4 linked regions of the Homo sapiens genome follow. The protein of the gene in region 4 purifies or fractionates together with the protein of the main gene of each other region. This does not show direct contact. Each region holds a gene or a part of one and is shown on either strand. Other genes may lie near its edges.

Region 1 (4,894 bases), on a different chromosome or scaffold from region 4:
TCCAGCCTGGGCAACAAGAGCGAAACTCCGTCTTAAAAAAAAAAAAAAAAAAAAAAAAAGTACGTTATGTTTTCAGATAAGAACACTTCTTCATGGATGACTTGAAATAATTGCCATGGTCCCTAAGTTTTCCTCTCTGTAGATGAATGATATAGCTCAGTATCTAAGCAGTGGATTAAGGAGTTCTTGGTGGCTATATTTAGTTACATGAAATAGAAGATTATTCAAATTACTGATGTATTGCCTCTACTTACTCCCAAGTGTAGTTTATCTTTTGTCAATTTGCAAATCAAGATGTTTTATTGCTTGAATTTTATGTTACTTATATAAACAGTTAGGATCATATATCTGAAGACACACAGGTACTTCCCTGTGGTCTAGAAAGTAACTAGTTCTTTTTTTCCTTGAAGAAAGTGGGAGCAGGAACTATAATGGCTTGTCCATCTCCTGAACAGTCTTATTAATGGCTTAATAGAATGGAAATTTGCCATCCCTGGACAGTATACAGCACAAAGAGAAGGGAGACCAGGGTAAAAGGAGTGTACCTGATAAGAACTAGCAAAAAGCCCTTTTAAGAACCACCAAAGGCTACCATGCTTATGTGTATAGCATTAGCATAAATTTCTGGACTAGAAAACTAGGGCCTAGGATTTGTTTCATTCAGCTTTTTTTTTTTTTTTGGAAACAGAGTCTTGCTCTGTCGCCCAGGCTGGAGTGCAGTGGCGCAGTCTTGGCTCACTGCAACCTCCACCTCCCAGGTTCAAGTGAGTCTCCTGCCTCAGTCTCCTGAGTAGCTGGGATTACAGGTGTGCGCCACTGTGCCCGACTAATTTTTGTATTGTTAGTACAGACGGGATTTCACTATGTTGACCAGGCTGGTCTCGAACTCCTGACCTCAAGTGATCCACCTGCCTTGGCCTCCCAAAGTGCTAGGATTACAGGCGTGAGTTACCGCACCCAGCCTCATTCAGTTTTTGTTCAGTTTCTCTTGTCCTGTGACAGCAGTTTAAAAACTAGACCTATGATATCTTTTTTTTTGAGACAGTCTTGCTCTGCTCTGCTCTGTCACCCAGGCTGGAGTGCAGTGGCACAATCTGGGTTCACTGCAACCTCTGCCTCTCGCATTCAAGCGATTCTCCTGCCTCAGCCTCCCAAGTAGCTGGGACTACAGGCACATCCCACCATGCCCAGCTAATATTTGTACTTTTATTATTTGTATTTATTTATTTATTTGAGATGGAGCGATTCTCTTGCCTCAGCTTCCCAAGTAGTTGGGATTACAGGCATCTGGCACCACCCCCAGCTAATTTTTGTATTTTTAGTAGAAACAGGGTTTCACCATGTTGGCCAGGCTGATCTCAAAGTCTTGACCTCAGGAGATCCACCTGCCTCGGCCTCCTATAGTGTTGGGATTACAGGTGTGAGCCACTGTACCCAGCTTATGACATGTATTTTTTAATTAAAATTAAGTCATTCTGGCCAGATGCGGTGGCTCTCGCCTGTAATCCCAGCACTTTGGGAGGCCAAAGTAAGTGGATCACTTGAGGTCAGGGGTTCAAGAGCAGCCTGGCCAACATAGTGAAACCCTGTCTCTACTAAAAATACAAAAATTAGCTGGGCATGGTGGTGCGTGCCCGTAGTTCCAGCTCCTCAAGGGGCTGAGGCAGGAGAGTCGCTTAAGCCTGGGAGGCGGAGGTTGCGGTGAGCCAAGATTGCCCCATTGCACTCCAGCCTGGGTGACACAGTGAGACTCCATCTCAAAAAAAAAACTCATTTTGTTAATATCACTCATTTTAAACTGTTGTTGAGAGAGCGAGTACTAAAATGATATTTGTATTATGTTGGCATCAAACAGGTGATTTTATTAATTTAATACTCCTTCAGATTAATTTCTGTTATCAACTCTTAGTTTATAGTAGTCATTGATAGAAAAAAGAGAGCCCTCTACTTTACCTGAAAGCATATTTTAGTTTTTGGTAAGAGATTTCCTTAAATTCATCGCTATTTAAAAAGAAGACAGCTGGGTGCAGTGGCTCACTGCTGTAATCCCAGCACTTTTGGAGGCCAAGGCAGGCATATCACCTGAGGTCGGGACTTTGAGACCAGCCTGGCCAACATGACAAAACCCCGTCTACTAAAACTACAAAAATTGGCTGGGTATGGTGGCGCATGCCTGTAATCCCAGCTATTCAGGAGGCTAAGGCATGAGAATCACTTGAGCCCAGGAGGTAAAGATTGCAGTGAGAGCCGAGATTACACCACTGCATTCCAGCCTGGGCGACTGGGCGACAGAGTGAGACTCTCAGAAAAAAAAACAAAAAACCTCACGATCTAAATTTCAGCTTAGTAAGTAATTCAGGTCATCGTATAGTCACTTCATTGGAAGTATGATTCAATAAAGAAAGTAAAGAATTAATATTGCTTGTATAAATATTTTCTTATCACCTTTCCTTCTGTTCTCATGTAATTTAGTGTTTTGTTTTTTTCAGTTTATGTTATGATAGCAATTTTCTGCATAGCATCAGCAATGAGTCTGTACAACTGTCTTGCTGCACTAATTCATAAGATACCATATGGACAATGCACGTACGTATCTCTTACAGGAAATCTTATAATGTTGGTGTTTATAATTTGAAACAATACAAAAGTAGGAGTATTATTTGAAACCTATATAGTCCAATATACATTGGACCTACAGGTGTTTAAATTTAAATTTAAGTAAAATTAAATAAAATTAAAAATTGAGTTTTTCATTCTTATTAGCCACATTTCAAGTGCTCAATAGCCACATATGACTAGTAGCTACTATATTGGACAGCACAGATATAGTACATTATTCATCATCACAGAAAATTATATTGGACTGATAAACATTTTATTACGTCTCATTTGTTTTACTTAAAATCAAGACTTTCAAAATTGATATTTCAGTCACTTCTTATGACTGTGGTTAATATTTGCTACTTCTTATATCAAGTGAACATTGTACTTCATCTGCAGTGTTAACTATTTTAATCTGTTTTTTAGGATTGCATGTCGTGGCAAAAACATGGAAGTGAGACTTATTTTTCTCTCTGGACTGTGCATAGCAGTAGCTGTTGTTTGGGCTGTGTTTCGAAATGAAGACAGGTATGAATACTCAATGTATTTGCTTTTAGATTAAGGATGAATTGTTTCCTATCTTGCCCTGATACTTATTATGATTATTATGGAATTTTTTTGCTTCTATGCCAGAACACCAGTCTTGTAATGAACTACTTCTTAAATAAGCAGATCTTATGTTAATGCATTTGAACTCATATAGAGAAGGAAATATGAATTATGATTTTAACACATACACTGAAATAGACTTTAAAAATATACTTAATTTCACGCCTGTAATCCCAGCACTTTGGGAGGCCGAGGCAGGCGGATCACCTGAGGTCGGGAGTTTGAGACCAGCCTGACCAACATGGAGAAACCCCGTCTCTACTAAAAATACAAAAAATTAGCCAGGCGTGGTAGTGCATGCCTGTAATCCCAGCTACTCGGGAGGCTGAGGCAGGAGAATCGCTTGAACCCGGGAGGCGGAGGTTGCAGTGAGCGGAGGTTGCAGTGAGCCAAGATCGCGCCATTGCACTCCAGCCTGGGCAACAAGAGTGAAACTCTATCTCAAAAAAATATGTGTGTGTGTGTGTGTGTGTGTATGTATATATGTGTGTGTGTGTATATATGTATGTGTGTGTGTGTATATATACACACACTTAATTTTGGTATAGCCACACAGTTGAGTGCAGTGCAGCTCTAAACAATGAAGATCTCTATGAATTGATATGCAGGGAGTTCCAGGAGAGAGAGAAAGAGAGAGAGAGTGCAGAAACAATCAAAATGTCCATCAAACTTTGAATGGGTGAATACATTACGTTATATTTACACAATGGAATACTGTTCACCAATAAGTAAGCCATATACCACATGCAGAGGCGTGAATGAATCTCAAACGTAATGCCAAGTGAAAGTAGTCAGATACAAAAGAGAACATACTTGCCGGGCATGGTGGCTCATACCTGTAATCCCAGCACTTTTGGAGGCTTGAGGTGGGCAGATCACCTGTGGTCAGGAGTTCGAGACCACCCTGACCAACATGGAGAAGCCTCGTCTCTACTTAAAAATACAGAATTAGCCGGGCATGGTGGCATGCGCCTGTAATCCCAGCTACTCAGGAGGCTGAGGCAAGAGAATCACTTGAACCCAAGGCAGAGGTTGCAGTGAGCTGAGATCACACTATTGCACTCCAGCCTGGGGAATAAGAGTGCAACTCCGTCTCAAAAAAACAAAAAAAGAAAAGAGAGAGAGAGAATATACTCTATGATATATAAAGTACAAAAAGGAGCACAGTCTATACTTTTTAAAAAGTTTTATTTTTAATTATTATGGGAACATAATGACTATATATATTTACGGGATACATGTGGTGTTTTGATACAGGCATTCAATGTGAATGATCACATCAGAGTAATAGTGGTATCCATCACCTCAAGCCTTTGTCATTTCTTTGTGTTGGGAACATTCCAATTTCACTCTTTTAGTTATTTTTACAATATACAATAAGTTATTAACTGTATCACCTTATTGTGCTACCAAACACTAGATCTTATTTATTTTATTTAGCTATATTTTTGCACCCATTAACCATCTTCACTTTATCACCCCCACTCTCTACCTTTTTTTAGCCTCTGGTAACCATCATTCTACTATCTCCATGAGTTCCATTTTTTATTTTTATTTTCTTAATTTTAGCTCCCACGATGAGTGAGAACATGCAATATTTGTCTTTCCGTGCTTGGCTTATTTCACTTAACATGATGTCTTCAGTTCCATCCATGTCTTTGCAAATGACAAGACTTCATTATTT
Region 2 (4,894 bases), on a different chromosome or scaffold from region 4:
ACAGTGGCGCGATCTTGGCTCACTGCAACTTCCACTTCTCAGGTTCAAGCGATTCTCCTGCCTCAGCCTCCTGAGGAGCTGGGACTACAGGCGTGTGCCACCACCTGCTGCTAATTTTTTGTATTTTTAGTAGACACAAGATTTCACCATGTAGACCAGGCTGGTCTCAAACTCCTGACCTCAAGTGATCTGCCCATCTCAGCCTCCCAAAGTGCTGGGATTAAAAGCATGAGCCACCTAGCCCAGCCTGGACTTTATTCGAATTGTAATGGGAAACCACTGAAGGGTCCTGATATGGTTTGGCTGTCTCCCCACCCAAAATCTCATCTTGAATTGTAGTAATCCCCATGTGTCAAGGGAGGGACCAGGTGAAGTTAACTGAACCATGGGTGTGGTTTCCCCCATACTGTTCTAGTGACAGTGAGTTCTCACAAGATCTGATGGTTTTATAAGGAGATTACCCCTTCATTCGGCTCTCATTCTCTTTCCTGCCACCATGTGAAGGAGGATGTGTTTACTTCCCCTTCTGCCATGATTTTATAAGTTACCTAAGGCCTCCCCAGCCCTGCAGAACTGTGAGTCAATTAAACCTCTTTCCTTTATTAATTACCTAGTCTCAGGTATTTCTTCATAGCAGCAGCACGAGAACAGACTAATACAGCTTACATGCTTAGGAGGTACATTTACATGCTTACAAGCATGTAAATGATGTCATCTGAACTATGCTTCAGAAAGATAACTCTGGCTGCTGTGGAGCCAGGATTTTAGTGGGGCAAGAAGACAAACAGGGAAATCAATAATGAAGCTGCTGCAATAATCCAAACACCTGGACCAGGGTGGGAGTAGAAGAGATGGCTAGAAATGGTCAGCTGCTGAGTGTATTTTGGAAGCAGAGGTGACAGGACTCGCTAATAGACTGGATGTGGGGCAAAGGAGAAGAATTCAGGATGACCCTCAAGTATATGACATGAGCAAAATGGGGACTTTCTTGTTGAGTTTTTTTTTTTTTTTTTTTTTGAGACGGAGTCTTGCTCTGTTGCCCAGGCTGGAGTGCAGTGGCACGGTCTCAGCTTACTGCAACCTCCACCTCCCAAGTTCAAGCAATCCTCCTGCCTCAGCCCCCCTAGTAGCTGGGATTACAGGCACACACCACCATGCCCGGCTAATTTTTTTTTTTTTTTTTTTTTTTTTGAGACGAAGTCTCCCGCCCAGCCTGGAGTGCAGTGGCACGATCTGCAAGCTCTGCCTCCCGGGTTCACGCCATTCTCCTGCCTCAGCCTCCTGAGTAGCTGGGACTACAGGCACCTGCCACCAAGCCCGGCTAATTTTTTTTGTATTTTTTTAGTAGAGACGGGGTTTCACTGTGTTAGCCAGAATGGTCTCCATCATCTCCTGACCTCGTGATCCACCCGCCTCAGCCTCCCAAAGTGCTGGGATTACAGGCGTAAGCCACCGCGGCCGGCCTTTTTTTTTTTGAGATGGAGTCTCACTCTGTCGCCAGGCTGGAGAGCAGTGGCCCATCTCGGCTCACTGCCACCTCTGCCTCCCAGGTTCAAGCGATTCTCCTGCCTCAGCCTTCTGAGTAGCTGGGACGACGCCACCACACCCAACTAATTTTTTTATTTTTAGTAGAGACAGAGTTTCACCATGTTGGCCAGGATGGTCTCGATCTCTTGACCTCGTGATCTGCCCACCTCGGCCTCCCAAAGTGCTGGGATTACAGGCATGAGCCACCGCGCCTGGCCTCTAATTCTTGTATTTTTAGTAGAGATGGGGTTTTGCCATGTTAGCCAGGCTGGTCTCAAACTCCTGATCTCAGGTGATTTACCCACCTTGGCCTCCCAAAGTGCTGGGATTACAGACATGAGCCACCACGCCTGGCCTAGGACACTACTTTTTTTTTTTTTTTTTTTTTTTTTTGAGACAAAGTTTGGCTCTTGTTGCCCAGGCTGGAGTGCAATGACACGATCTCGGCTCACCGAAACCTCCGCCTCCTGGGTTCAAGCAATTATCCTGCCTTAGCCTCCCGAGTAGCTGGGATTACAGGCATGCGCCACCACGCCCAGCTAATTTTGTATTTTTTTTAGTAGAGACAACAGGGTTTCTCCATGTTGGTCAGGCTGGTGTCGAACTCCCAACCTCAAGTGATCCGTCCGCCTTGGCCTCCCAAAGTGCTGGGATTACAGGTGTGAGCCACCACGCAGGCCTAGGACACCAACTTTAGCAGAGTTGCCTGGAAGACATGAAATGGCAGAAACTTCTAAAAAACAAACAAACCCCATCTATTTGGACACAGAGCAGAGATGTGCCTGTGACTTAGCATGGACCTGGCCACATCCATATCAAAAATATTCACTAGTTAGTATGTTAACATTTATATTAATGAAACAAAATTCATTTATGTCTCTTAACCTTTCTTCTACCCACCCACCCCCACCTTCCAAGAAAGATTAGTAACAAAAAAGAAACTACAATGTAACAATCATCTCCAAGACTTTTTTTTTTTTTTTTTTTTTTTTTTGAGACAGAGTCTCATCTCACTCTGTTGCCCAGGCTGGAGTACAATGGCACGATCAGAGACTAGGTTTCACCATGTTGGCCAACCTGGTCTCGAACTCCTGACCTCAGGTGATCCACCCACCTCGGCCTCCCAAATTGCTGGGATTATAGGCGTGAGCCACCTCACCCAGCCAAGACCTCATTTTTATAAACAATGAAGATTTATGCTGTTACCTTGACCTCCTGCCAGTAGGGTCCCCCGCGGGTGAACATGAAGTAACTATACATCTGATTCGTCCTCTGGAAGAAATCTGTGTCCTCCTTGATATTCACCATCCAAGGCCGACCATCCCCACGTACACGGAGATACAGAGTATTGAACTGGGACCAATCGTAAGACATCTTCCTCTCAAAAGCACCCTAAGATATTGAAAGTAAAGTTCATTGTACCTCATTCTCCATTATTAGCAAAATGTGAGTCATCACCAAGTCAGCATCATCAACAGGATGCACTAACCATTTTTCTGACTTTCTGCCCCATAAGAAGGCACATAAACCCAGTGATTATTATTTTAGCACAAAATACTGACATAGTTATATGTTTCTAAGGTAATGTTCAACACACAACTGGCCCAGGACAGTGTTTACATGGGGTAGGCACTCACCTGTGTTCAATGAATGGAAATGAATGTATTTCCTTTACCTGGTCGTATGGAGCAATGACTTTTTCTTTTCTTTTCTTTTCTTTTCTTTTTTTTTTTTTGAGACGGAGTCTTGCTCTGTCACCCAGGCTGGAGTGCAGTGGTGCAATCTCAGCTCACTGCAAGCTCTGCCTCCTGGGTTCACACCATTCTCCTGCCTCAGCCTCCCGAATAGCTGGTACTATAGGCGCCCAAAACCACACCCGGCTAATTTTTTTGTATTTTTAGTAGAGACGGGGTTTCACCGTGTTAGCCAGGATGGTCTCGATCTCCTGACCTGGTGATCCGCCCACCTTGGCCACCCAAAGTGTGGGGATTACAGGCATGAGCCACTGCGCCCGGCCTTTTTTTTTTTTTTTTTTTTTTGAGACAAAGTTTCGCTCTTGTTGCCCAGACTGGAGTGCAATGGCACGATCTCAGCTCACTGCAACCTCTGCCTCCAGAGTTCAAGCAATTCTCCTGCCTCAGCCTCCCAAGTACCTGGAATTACAGGCATGCACCACCATGTCCAGCACTCTGGGAGGCCAAGGGTGGGGTGGATCACCTGAGGTCAGGAGTTCAAGACCAGCCTGGCCAACATGGTGAAACCCTGTCTCTACTAAAAATACAAAAATTAGCTGGGCGTGGTGGTGTGCACCAGTAGTCCCAGCTACTCAGGAGGCTGAGGCAGGAGAATCGCTTGAACCTGGAGGGCGGAAGTTGCAGTGAGCCGAGATCACGCCACTGCACTCTAGCCTGGGCGACAGAGCAAGACTCCGTTTCAAAAAAAAAAAAAGAAAGCCACAGGCTAACCCTACATCCACTCTACAAAACCCCTGGTCATTACAGAGGTTGTGGTCTTTTTTAGAGGAGATGAAAATCTCTCCAAAAATCTTTCAAATGTCTAACCTCTCAGGATTCCTGAAACATAACAATGCTCGTTCCTGGCCCAAAGCAATGCGCAGAAACAAGTTAACTCCTCCTCCTCAGAAACCACTTCCCCCTTGTGCTTCCACTTCACACTTGTGCCAATAGTTACTTATCCCCAGACACAGGTGAGGTGCCAAATATAACATGCCAGGTGTTTTCATTTACAGAAACAAAAGCTATCTTCTATAGTTTATGCTACAATGAAGTTCACCCCTGTTTACTAGAAAACGATGGCTCCTGGGCCTCACCTACCCTTGGAATCCTGGATATCATTGCACAGTACCCACTTCGGGTAGACTCCCCGTCCTGAGGCGCCTCAGAGCTCAGAGTTCCATATAGCAGTGCACTTTGGTTATTCTTGCCCATTTTCAAAAACACTTCACTTCTGCCTCCAATCGTCTTATCAGAAGTCACTGTCCACTTATCCAAATCTTCTTTCCCCCGGAATTGCCAGACAACCTTGGCTTGTTCCAGCAAGACCTCATGCAGAGGGTGGCCTTCCGGTCCTCTCCAATGATCCACAATTTCATCCTTCAAAAGCCTAAAATGGTATATTGCTTCATCTCTAATTGCTTTATCGAAACTAACATCAGGCTTCTCCTCAGAAGAAGTTATATCCAAAGCAACTTCTTTCTGGTGATCTCCTTGCAAATCCCCTTCAGTCTTCCTCTGTGAGGAGGCTTTGCCAGGAGAAGCCACTGGTTTCTGAAGACTACTGGAATACTCTGCAAAGCGAATACCCAAAAATGGATACAAGGCAGAAGTTGGCTTAGAGAATTTTCTGA
Region 3 (4,894 bases), on a different chromosome or scaffold from region 4:
CAGCTAATTTTTTGGATTTTTAGTAGAGACGGGGTTTCACTGTGTTAGTCAGGATGGTCTCGATCTCCTGACCTCGTGATCCGCCCGCCTTGGCCTCCCAAGTGCTGGGATTACAGGCATGAGCCACCGCGCCCGGCGTAGCCACCTTAAGTCTTGAGATTACAGGCATGAGCCACTGTACCCAGCCCCTTCTTTCTTTTTCTTTTTTTCTTGAGACAGAGTTTCACTCGTCGCCCAGGCTGGAATGCAATGGTGTCATCTCAGCTCACTGCAACCTCTGCCTTGTGGGTTCAAGCGATTCTCCTGCCTCAGCCTCCCAAGTAGCTAGGATTACAGGCGCCTGCCACCATGCCCAGCTAATTTTTATGTTTTGTTTGTTTGTTTTTCCTGAGATGGAGTCTCGCTCTGTTGCCAGGCTGGAGTGCAGTCACACGATCTCAGCTCACTATAACCTCTGACTCCCTGGTTCAAGCAATTCTTCTGCCTCAGCCTCCCAAGTAGCTGGGATTACAGGCACATGCCACCATGCCCAGTTAACTTTTGTATTTTTAGTAGAGACAGGGTTTCACCATGTTGGCCAGGCTGGTCTTGAACTCCTGACCTTGTGATCCGCCCACCTCGGCCTCCCAAAGTGCTGGGATTACAGATGTGAGCCACCATGCCCGGCCTAATTTTTGTGTTTTTAGTAGAGACGGGGTTTCACCATGTTGGCCAGGATGGTCTCGAATTCCTGACCTAAGGTGATCCACCCACCGTGGCCTCCCAAAGTGCTGGGACCCTTTAAGAGATGGAGTCTAGCTATGTTGCCCAGGCGGGAGTGCAGTGGCTATTCACAGGCATGAGCCAACTGGTCAGCACAGGAGTTTTGACCTGCTGTTTCCAACCTGGGTCAGTTCACACTTCCTTAGGCAACCTGGTGGTCCCCCAAGTCCCAGGAGGTCACAATATTAAGCAAAACTTAGTGCAGGACACTCCATCAGCATAGTGCACAACAGCCCAGAACTCCTGGGCTCAAGTGATCCTCCCACCTCAGCCTCCAGAGTAGCCAAATTCTGGTTCTAGATGACACAGTAACAAATTTCTTATTTTAAATTGAATTTTTAAATTAGAAGGGTTACATATAAGGCATCTTAAAAATATACAGCTAGTTATCAAGGTTGTACTGTGCTTTGATTGCACCACCGCATTGCAGCCTGGGCAACATAGTGAGACTCCATCTCTCTATGAAAAAATAAAAAAATAAGCGGGGCGTGGTGGTGTATACCTGTAGTCCCAGCTACTCAGGAGGCTGAAGCAGGAGGACTGCTTAAGCCCAGGAATCCCAGGCTGCAGTGAGCTATGATTGTGTCACTGCACTCCAACCTGAACGAGAGAGTAAAACCTTATCTCTAAAAAATAAATGAATGTGTGTGTGTTTATCTACACACACACACACACACACACAAAACGCTAACAAGTAAGAGCCAATATTAGTCCAGGCTCGGTGGCTCACACCTGTAATCCTAGCACTTTGGGAGGCTGAGGCGGGCAGATCACCTGAGGTCAGGAGTTTGAGACCAGCCTGGGCAACCTGCTGAAACCTCATGTCTACAAAAAAATACAAAAATTAGCCAGGCATGGTGGTGAATGTATGTAGTCCCAGCTACTCAGGAGGCTGAAGTAGGCAGATCAATTGAGACTGGCGGGTCGAGGTTGCAGTGAGCCAAGATCACGCCACTACACTCCAGCATGGGCAACAGAGCGAGACCCTATCTCAAAAGAAAGAGACAATATTTACCAAATATTCTTCCACTGTAGACACAGTTGAGCACTTTACAAATGTGAGGCCCTAGGTGGGGGGTACTCTTACTGCACTCATTTTACAGATGAGAAAAACCAAGGCTCAGGAAGATGAAGTGGGATGCACAGTGTTACACAGCTGCAAAGCATCAGAGCTGAGAATGGAGTCAGTGCCCTCAGTCCCCCTACTCTGCGGTCCCCACAGCCATCCCATATCGTTCTTTGATAAGGCAATGTTAAAAAAAAAAAAAGGCATTCATTTACAGTAAAATTTCAGGTTGGGCGCAGTGGCTCGTGCCTGTAATCCCAGCACTTTTGAGAGGCGGGTGGATCACTTGAGGTCAGGAGTTTGAGACCAGCCTGGCCAACATGGTGAAACCCCATCTCTACCAAAAATGCAAAAATTAGCCAGGTGTGGTGCCGCACACCTGTAATCCCAGCTACTCAGGAGGCTGAGGCAGGAAAATCACTTGAACCCGGGAGGCAGAGGTTGCAATGAGCTGAGATCACGCCACTGCACTCCAGCCTGGGTGACAGAGGGAGACTCCATCTCAAAAACAAAAAACAACTGAAATTTCAGTCAATTAATAATATAGGTGGTGTAGTATTGTACCACTTTGGGGTAAAAATCAGAAAGGAAGCTCTAAAATGCCTAACGAGGGGGAAACACTGCAAAGGAGGTAATGTAAATGAAATGCATAGTGCGGGGCCGGGCACAGAGTAAGTGCTCAATATGGGAACTATTAATATTCCCACCATCATCGTTATTGCTATCTATGGCTGTCAATCTGCTTTCGCCATCTGGTCACTATGGGTATAGGAAAGAAATTCAGTTTTCTGCCCCATCTTCACAAGTAGATGCAGGAGGAGCTGCTCACAGTCACCACACAAATCCACCGAGCTCATACATCCTTATTTTCAAAGTCAATCCCCTCACCCACGTAGGCACTAGCATCTCTTAAATTAGGGTCCAGGCACAGTGGCTCACACTTGTAATCCTAGCACTTTGGGAGGCCAAAGTGGAAGGACTGAGGGCCCAGAGGTTCAAGACCAGTCTGGGCAACACAACAAGACCATATACTTAAAAAAAAAAAAAATTAGCGGCCGGGTGCGGTGGCTTATGCCTGTAATCCCAGCACTCTGGGAGGCCGAGGCGGGTGAATCACCTGAGGTCAGGAGTTTGAGACCAGCCTCGCCAACATGGCAAAACCGCGTCTCTACTAAAATTACAAAAATTAGCTGGGCGTGGTGATGTGCACTTGTAATCACAGCTACTCGGCAGGCTGAGGCAGGAGAATCACTTGAACCCAGGAGGCAGAGGTTGCAGTGAGCCAAGACCACGCCACTGCACTCCAGCTTTGGCGACAAGAGCAAAATTCCATCTAAAAAAAAAAAAATTAGCTGGGCATGGTGGCTCAAATCAGTGATCCCAGCTACTCAGGGGGCTGAGGTGGGAGGCTCATTTGAGCCCAGGAGTTTGAGGCTGCAGTGAGCCCTGATTCCACCACTGTACTCCAGCCTGGGTGATAGAGCAAGACCTTGTTTCAAAAAAATAAATAAATTATGGACTTTTGGCCAGGCGCGGTGGCTCACGCCTGTAATCCCAGCACTTTGGGAGGCTGACGCAGGTGGATCACTTGAGCCCAGAGTTCAAGACCAGCCTGCCCAACATGGTGAAACCCCGTCTCTACAAAAAAAATACAAAAACTAGCCGGGTGTGGTAGTATGTGCCTGTAGTCCTGGGTACTTGGGAGGATGAGGCGGGAGGATTGCTTGAACCTGGGAGGTCAAGACTACAGTGAGCTGTAATCACACTACTGCACTCCAGCCTTGGTGACAGAGACACTGTCTCAAAAAACAAACACATAAACATACATACATACATAAACTAAGGACTTTTAATGGGACCTCGGCACTGATAGGCCAGCCCAGACTCACCAGAACTGGCTTCACAGAGTGGATTCTGAAGGAGTTGGGAGCAAATCCCAAGCTTACCTCCCTCTACCCAAAAGACTGCCTGGCTGGTGCTTACCTGAGAGATGGAGGTTCCTGTGAGGGCGGCCCCGCAGGTGCCTCCCCAGGCCCTACAGAGGCCTCGGGCCAGTAGGGTGGCCTGGACCCAGCTCATGCCTCTGCTTGTCAGACAATCACCTGGCCCAAAAGAAGATTCAGCATTAGCCTGGCACCTTACAGATGCTAACAGACGCAAGGGCCCCGCAGGGTCGAGGGCACACTCCAGATTATGTGGCTCACTCACCAGCCCCAATGTTTACCTTACCCAAGAAACAGGCTGATGACTCAAAGACTTTGTTCTTGGGACAGCACCCTAATCCTGCTGCCCCAGGGGCGTGATCATAGCTCAATGCAGCCTCCAACTTCTGGGCCCAAGTGATCCTCCAGCCCCAGAGCGTCGAGAAGCTGGGACTACAGACGCGTGCCACCATGCCCAGCTAATTTGAAAATAGTTTGCAGAGACCCAGGGTCTTGCTGTGTTGCCCAGGCTGGTCTCGAACTGTTGGCTTCAAGTGATCCTCCCATCTCTGTCTCCAAAAGTGCTGGGATCATGGGTGTGAGCCAGCACTCCTAGCCACTACAATCTAATTTTACAAAATCTGTGTCACTCCAACAAGAATCCCTGTACCTGGCCAGGCGCGGTGGCTCACGCCTGTAATCACAACATTCTGGGAGGCTGAGGCGGGCGGATCACTCGAAGTTGGGAGTTCGAGACCAGCCTGACCAACATGGAGAAACCCCATCGCTACTAAAAATACAAAAAATTAGCCGAGCATGGTGGCGCACGCCTGTAATTCCAGCTACTGGGAAGGCTGACGTAGGAGAATTGCTTGAACCCAGGAGGCAGAGGTTGCAGTGAGCCAAGATGATGCCATTACACCTCAGCCTGGGGAACAACAGCAAAACTCCATCTCCAGAAAAAAAAAAAAAGAAGAAAAAAAAAAAAGAAAGAAACCCTGTACCCATTAGCACTCAATTTCCCTTCACTCCCAACCCCAAGAAACCACTCATCCACTGTCTCTATAGATCTCCCTATGCCGGCCATTTCATACAAATGGAATCTGGAATCACAAGTGCTCCTTTATGATTGGTTTCCTTCACT
Region 4 (4,894 bases):
TCACCCAGACGGGAGTGCAGTGGTGCAATCTCGGCTCACTGCAACCTTTGCCTCCCAGGTTACGCGATTCTCCTGCCTCAGCTTCCTGAGTAGATGGGACTATAGGTGCACACCCGGCTAATTTTTGTATTTTTAGTAGAGGCAGGGTTTCCCCATTTAGGCCAGGCTGGTCTCGAACTCCTGACCTCAGGTGATCCACCTACCTCAGCCTCCCAAAGTGCTGGTATTACAGGCATGAGCCACTGCATCCGGCCCAGATGTACTCTTTTTAATTGAGATCTCATTCACATATAATAAACCCACCCTTTTAAAGTGTACAATTCAGTGAATTTTAGTATAGTTACAGAGTTTTGCAATCAGCACCACTCAAATTCCACAACAGTTTTATCACCCCAAAAAGAAACCCTATATTGGCTGGGTGTGGTGGCTCATGCCTGTAATCTCAGCAGTTTGGGATGCTGAGGCAGGCAGATCACTTGAGGTCAGGAATTCGAGACCAGCCTGGCCAACATGGTGAAATGCTGTCTCTACTAAAAGTACAAAAATTAGTTGGGCATGTTGGCAGGCTGAGTAATCTCAGCTACTTGGGAGGCTGAGGCAGGAGAATCACTTGAACCCAGGAGGTGGAGGTTGCAGTGGGCCAAGATTGCGCCACTGCACTCCAGCCTGGGCAACAGAGTGAGACCCTGTCTCAAAAAAAAAAAAAAAAAAAAAAAAAATGAAACCCTTTACGAATTAGCAGTTATTTCCCATTCTCAGCTCTGTCCAACCATTGACAACCACTAATCTACTTTCTGTCCGAATGGATTTGCCTAGTTTGAACATTTCATATCAATCTTTTGTGTCTGGCTTCTTCATTTTGCATAATGTTTTCAAGGTTCATCCATATTTTAGCATAAGTCAATACATATTCCTTTTTGTGGTGGAATAATATTCTGCTATATGGATATACCACATTTTGTTTATCCATTTATCAAGAGATAGACATTTGGTCATTTCCAAATGTCTATATAGTCATTTCCACTCATTGGCTGTTACGAATAATGCTGGTATAAATATTTGTGTAATATTCTGTCTTTTTAAAAGAGGCTGTATTAATCTATTACATGTATGATTAAATTTTAAAAACACAGCTTTGTAAAAACTAAATGTCGGTCTGGCTGTGGTGGCACATGCCTGCAGTCCCAGCTACTTGGGAGGCTGAGGCAGGCAAGTCGTGTGAACCCGGGAGGCGGAGGTTGCAGTGAGCCAAGATCATGCCACTGCACTCCAGCCTGGGCGACAGAGCCAAAAAAAACCAAAAAACAAACAAAAAAAACTAAATGTCAAATTTATGTATGGGAACACACACACACACACACACACACACACACACACACACACACACACACACATATATATAAATTTTTTACCTGAGAAGTTAGGTGTCTTTGTTTCAATCACAGACTCTTTGTTAAGTGTGCATTTAAATCACTTATCGTTATGAGTTAACTAAGCCAAATGTGTATTACAGTAACATTTTCCTAATCCTGGAGCAATGGAATGGTGTTGGCTAAGAGACGCCAGTACCAGGAAGCAAGAGAAATTCAGCAAATATTGAGGTTGAATGTCAGTACCATTTGGAAAATAAGCAAGGCCCACAGGTCTAAGAAGGGTGACCTAGTCTCTCAGAGGCCGTCAAAGGAGTGCAGGAAGGCATGAGGCCCCAGGAATCTGGATCAGCACAGGCTGGGAAATGCAGGCTTGTTGGGAGAAATAATGAAGAAAATCCTGACCTGTAAGGCCGGGTGTGGTGGCTCACACCTGTAATCCTAGCAGTTTGGGAGGCTGAGGCGGGCAGATCACCTGAGGTTGGGAGTTCCAGACCAGCCTGACCAACATGGAGAAACCCCATCTCGGCCAGGCACAGTGGCTCATGCCTGTAATCCCAGCACTTTGGGAGGCCAAGGTGAAACCGCGTCTCTACTAAAAATACAAAAATTAGCCAGGCATGGTGGTGTGTGCCTGTAATTCCAGCTACTCAGGAGGCAGAGACAAGAGAATTGCTTGAACCCGGGAGTCGGAGGTTGCAGTGAGCTGAGATCGTGCCACTACACTCCAGCCTGGGCGACAGAGCAAGACTTCATCTCAAAAAAAAAAAAAAAAGAAACCATCCCAACTAAAAATACAAAATTAGCCGCACGTGGTGGTGCATGTGTGTAATCCCAGCTACTCGGGAAGTCTGAGGCAGGAGAATCGCTTGACCCAGGAGGCGGAGGCTCTGGTGTGCCAAGATCGCGCCATTGCACTCCAGCCTGGGCAACAAGAGCGAAACTCTGTCTTAAAAAAAAAAAAAAAAAAAAAAGCTGGGTGCGGTGGCTCACACCTGTAATCCCAGCACTTTGGGAGGCCGAGGCAGGCGGATCATGAGGTCAGGAGATCGAGACCAGCCTGGCCAGCATAGTGAAACCCCGTCCCTACTAAAAATACAAAAAATTAGCCGAGCATGGTGGTGGGCGCCTGTAATCCTTGCTACTCGGGAGGCTGAGGCAGGAGAATGGCTTGAACCTGGGAGGCGGAGGTTGCAGTGAGACGAGATTGTGCCATTGCACTCCAGCCTGGGTGACAGAGTGAGACTCTGTCTCAAAAAAAAAAAACAAAGAAAATCTTGACCTTGACCTGTAATCTTTGAGCCAACACCCAGTGGTATCTGGTTTGTGTGCTTTGTATGAATGGACAAGGGCTGCAGCACATGGTCTGCAGTTGGGAAATCAAGAGGGTCCTGATGACAGTACAGGTTGAGAGACCAAGTCTTCCCATGATGTTTCCACACAATATCAACAACAGCCATTACCTGTGATTTTTAACAAGACAGGGCTTGTAAGTAACCCAATGGCAGGCCCACGGTTATTATTATCAGTGTATCCTCCAGTCCTTATCTAAAGTAGAAATATTAACCATATTACAAAAGTTAGCTTCTCCTTGGCCACAGGCTGAGCTTTGTCCTGGGCAGGAGTCCACAGGCTCATTCGTTTTCCCACCATGTCCCCATGGAAGCATGTGAGGCATTTCAAAGCCCAGTGGGCCTGTTTGGAGGCAGGTTCTCCCACAGACATGGTTGTGCACCACTGAAAAATAGTCACATGACTTTTCTGAGCCCATAAAGTAGAAATATTGCCCCAAACAATCCCTCTGGTCCTCACCACTCCTTAAATTCAGTGACAGACTCTAGATGGATGTTACAGCTCATCTCTGCCTGCATCTCCAGCACAGCAGTGCTAACCCCAATAGCAAGTTTATTCCTTGTCCAGGATCTGTTATTACAGATTACAATTAAATCACCAGGTTTATCTTCACTGCTGGCAAGCATTCAAAACACAAACATACTCATGATCTCAGTATGTAAAAGAGATTGAAGAATTAAAATAGTTCAGGCAAGGGGGCTCATGGCTGTAATCCCCACACTTTGAGAGACAAGGCAGGAAGAGTGCTCAAAGCCAGGAGTTCAAGATGAGCTTGGGCAACATAGCAAGACTGCATCTACACACAAAAAAGTAAAAGTTAGCGGCCGGTCATGGTGGCTCACACCTGTAACCCCAGCACTTTGGGAGGCCGAGGTGGGTGAATCACAAGGTCAGGAGTTCGAGACCAGCCAGGCCAACATGGTGAAACCCCATCTCTACTGAAAATACAAAAAATTAGCTGGGCGTAGTGGCAGGTGCCTGTAATCCCAGCTACTCGGGAGGCTGAGGCAGGAGAATCACTTGAACCTAGGAGGCGAAGGTTGCAGTGAGCCGAGATCGCACCACTGCACTCCAGCCTGGGTGACAGAATTGAGACTCCATCTCAAAAATAAAAAAAAATAAATATAAATAAAAATTAGCCAGGCCTGGTGATGTGCCGTATAATCCCAGCTACTTGGGAGGCTGAGACAGGAGGATCACTTGAGCCCAAGAAGTTTTGGTTACAGTGAGCTATTACACCACTGCCTTCCAGCTTGGGCAACAGAGCAAGACCCTGTCTCAAAAAAAAAAAAAAAAAAAGAAGAAGAAAATATACTGGGAAAAGGATATGGGTCAGTGATAGAAAAAGTTCTCAGGCCAAGCTTTTATTTTATTAGTTTTTTATTTATTTATTTATTTTTGAGACAGAGTCTCTGTTGCCCAGGCTGGAGTGCAGTGGCGTGATCTTGGCTCACTGCAACCTCCGCCTCCTGGGTTCAAGTGATTCTACTGTCTCAAACTCCTAAGTAGCTGAGATTACAGGTGCCCGCCACCATGCCTGGCTAATTTTTGTATTTTTAGTAGAGATGGGGTTTCGCCATGTTGGCCAGGCTGGTCTTGAACTCCTGATCTCAGGTGATCCACCCGCCTCAGCCTCCCAAAATGCTGGGATTACAGGTGTAGGGCAAGCTTTTAGAACTATAAATTACTGGCTGGGCACAGTGGCTCATGCGTGTAATCCCAGTACTTTGGGAGGCCAAGGTGGGTGGATCACTTGAGGCCAGGAGTTCGAGACCAGCCTGGGAAACATGGCAAAACTCCATCTCTACTAAAAATACAAAAATTAGCTGGGCATGGTGATGCACACCTATAATTCCAGCTACTTGGGAGGCTGAGGCTCAATAACAGCTTGAGCCAGAGAGGTGGGAGTTGCAGTGAGCTGAGATCACGCCACTGTACTCCAGCCTGGGCGACAGAGGGAGACTGTCTTAAAATGAAAAAAAAAACGCTGTAAATTATTATATTTATTTATTTATTAGGTTTGCATTGTCTGACAATCTCTATGCATAGGTTTGCATGGATGAACGAGGGCATTGCTATAGTAATGTGTTCCCTTTGGATAGGCCGTTCAACTCCTTAACAAAGTTCGTATTTATTATAAAACTTAGAAAAAAGTTACAAGGAGCCTTATA

The links. The genes of interacting proteins can lie anywhere in the genome.
Region 1: the proteins of MARVELD2 (region 4) and SPPL2A fractionate together in Homo sapiens (co-fractionation; one large-scale study listed by BioGRID). This does not show direct contact.
Region 2: the proteins of MARVELD2 (region 4) and NDUFAF1 purify together in Homo sapiens (affinity purification with mass spectrometry; 2 studies listed by BioGRID and IntAct, with this or other methods). This does not show direct contact.
Region 3: the proteins of MARVELD2 (region 4) and ECSIT purify together in Homo sapiens (affinity purification with mass spectrometry; 2 studies listed by BioGRID and IntAct, with this or other methods). This does not show direct contact.

What each region holds. Positions count from the first base shown.
Region 1 is NC_000015.10:50,734,336-50,739,229, reverse strand, and holds part of SPPL2A (signal peptide peptidase-like 2A isoform 1 precursor), read left to right. Parts: intron 1-2,489; coding exon 2,490-2,586; intron 2,587-3,027; coding exon 3,028-3,129; intron 3,130-4,894. UniProt on the Homo sapiens protein: Intramembrane-cleaving aspartic protease (I-CLiP) that cleaves type II membrane signal peptides in the hydrophobic plane of the membrane. Functions in FASLG, ITM2B and TNF processing.
Region 2 is NC_000015.10:41,392,126-41,397,019, forward strand, and holds part of NDUFAF1 (complex I intermediate-associated protein 30, mitochondrial precursor), read right to left. Parts: coding exon 4,362-4,894; intron 2,920-4,361; coding exon 2,734-2,919; intron 2,234-2,733; exon of another isoform or gene 1,980-2,233; intron 1-1,979. UniProt on the Homo sapiens protein: As part of the MCIA complex, involved in the assembly of the mitochondrial complex I.
Region 3 is NC_000019.10:11,515,264-11,520,157, forward strand, and holds part of ECSIT (evolutionarily conserved signaling intermediate in Toll pathway, mitochondrial isoform 1 precursor), read right to left. Parts: intron 3,931-4,894; 5' UTR 3,908-3,930; coding exon 3,812-3,907; intron 1-3,811.
Region 4 is NC_000005.10:69,435,060-69,439,953, forward strand, and holds part of MARVELD2 (MARVEL domain-containing protein 2), read left to right. Parts: intron 1-4,894. UniProt on the Homo sapiens protein: Plays a role in the formation of tricellular tight junctions and of epithelial barriers.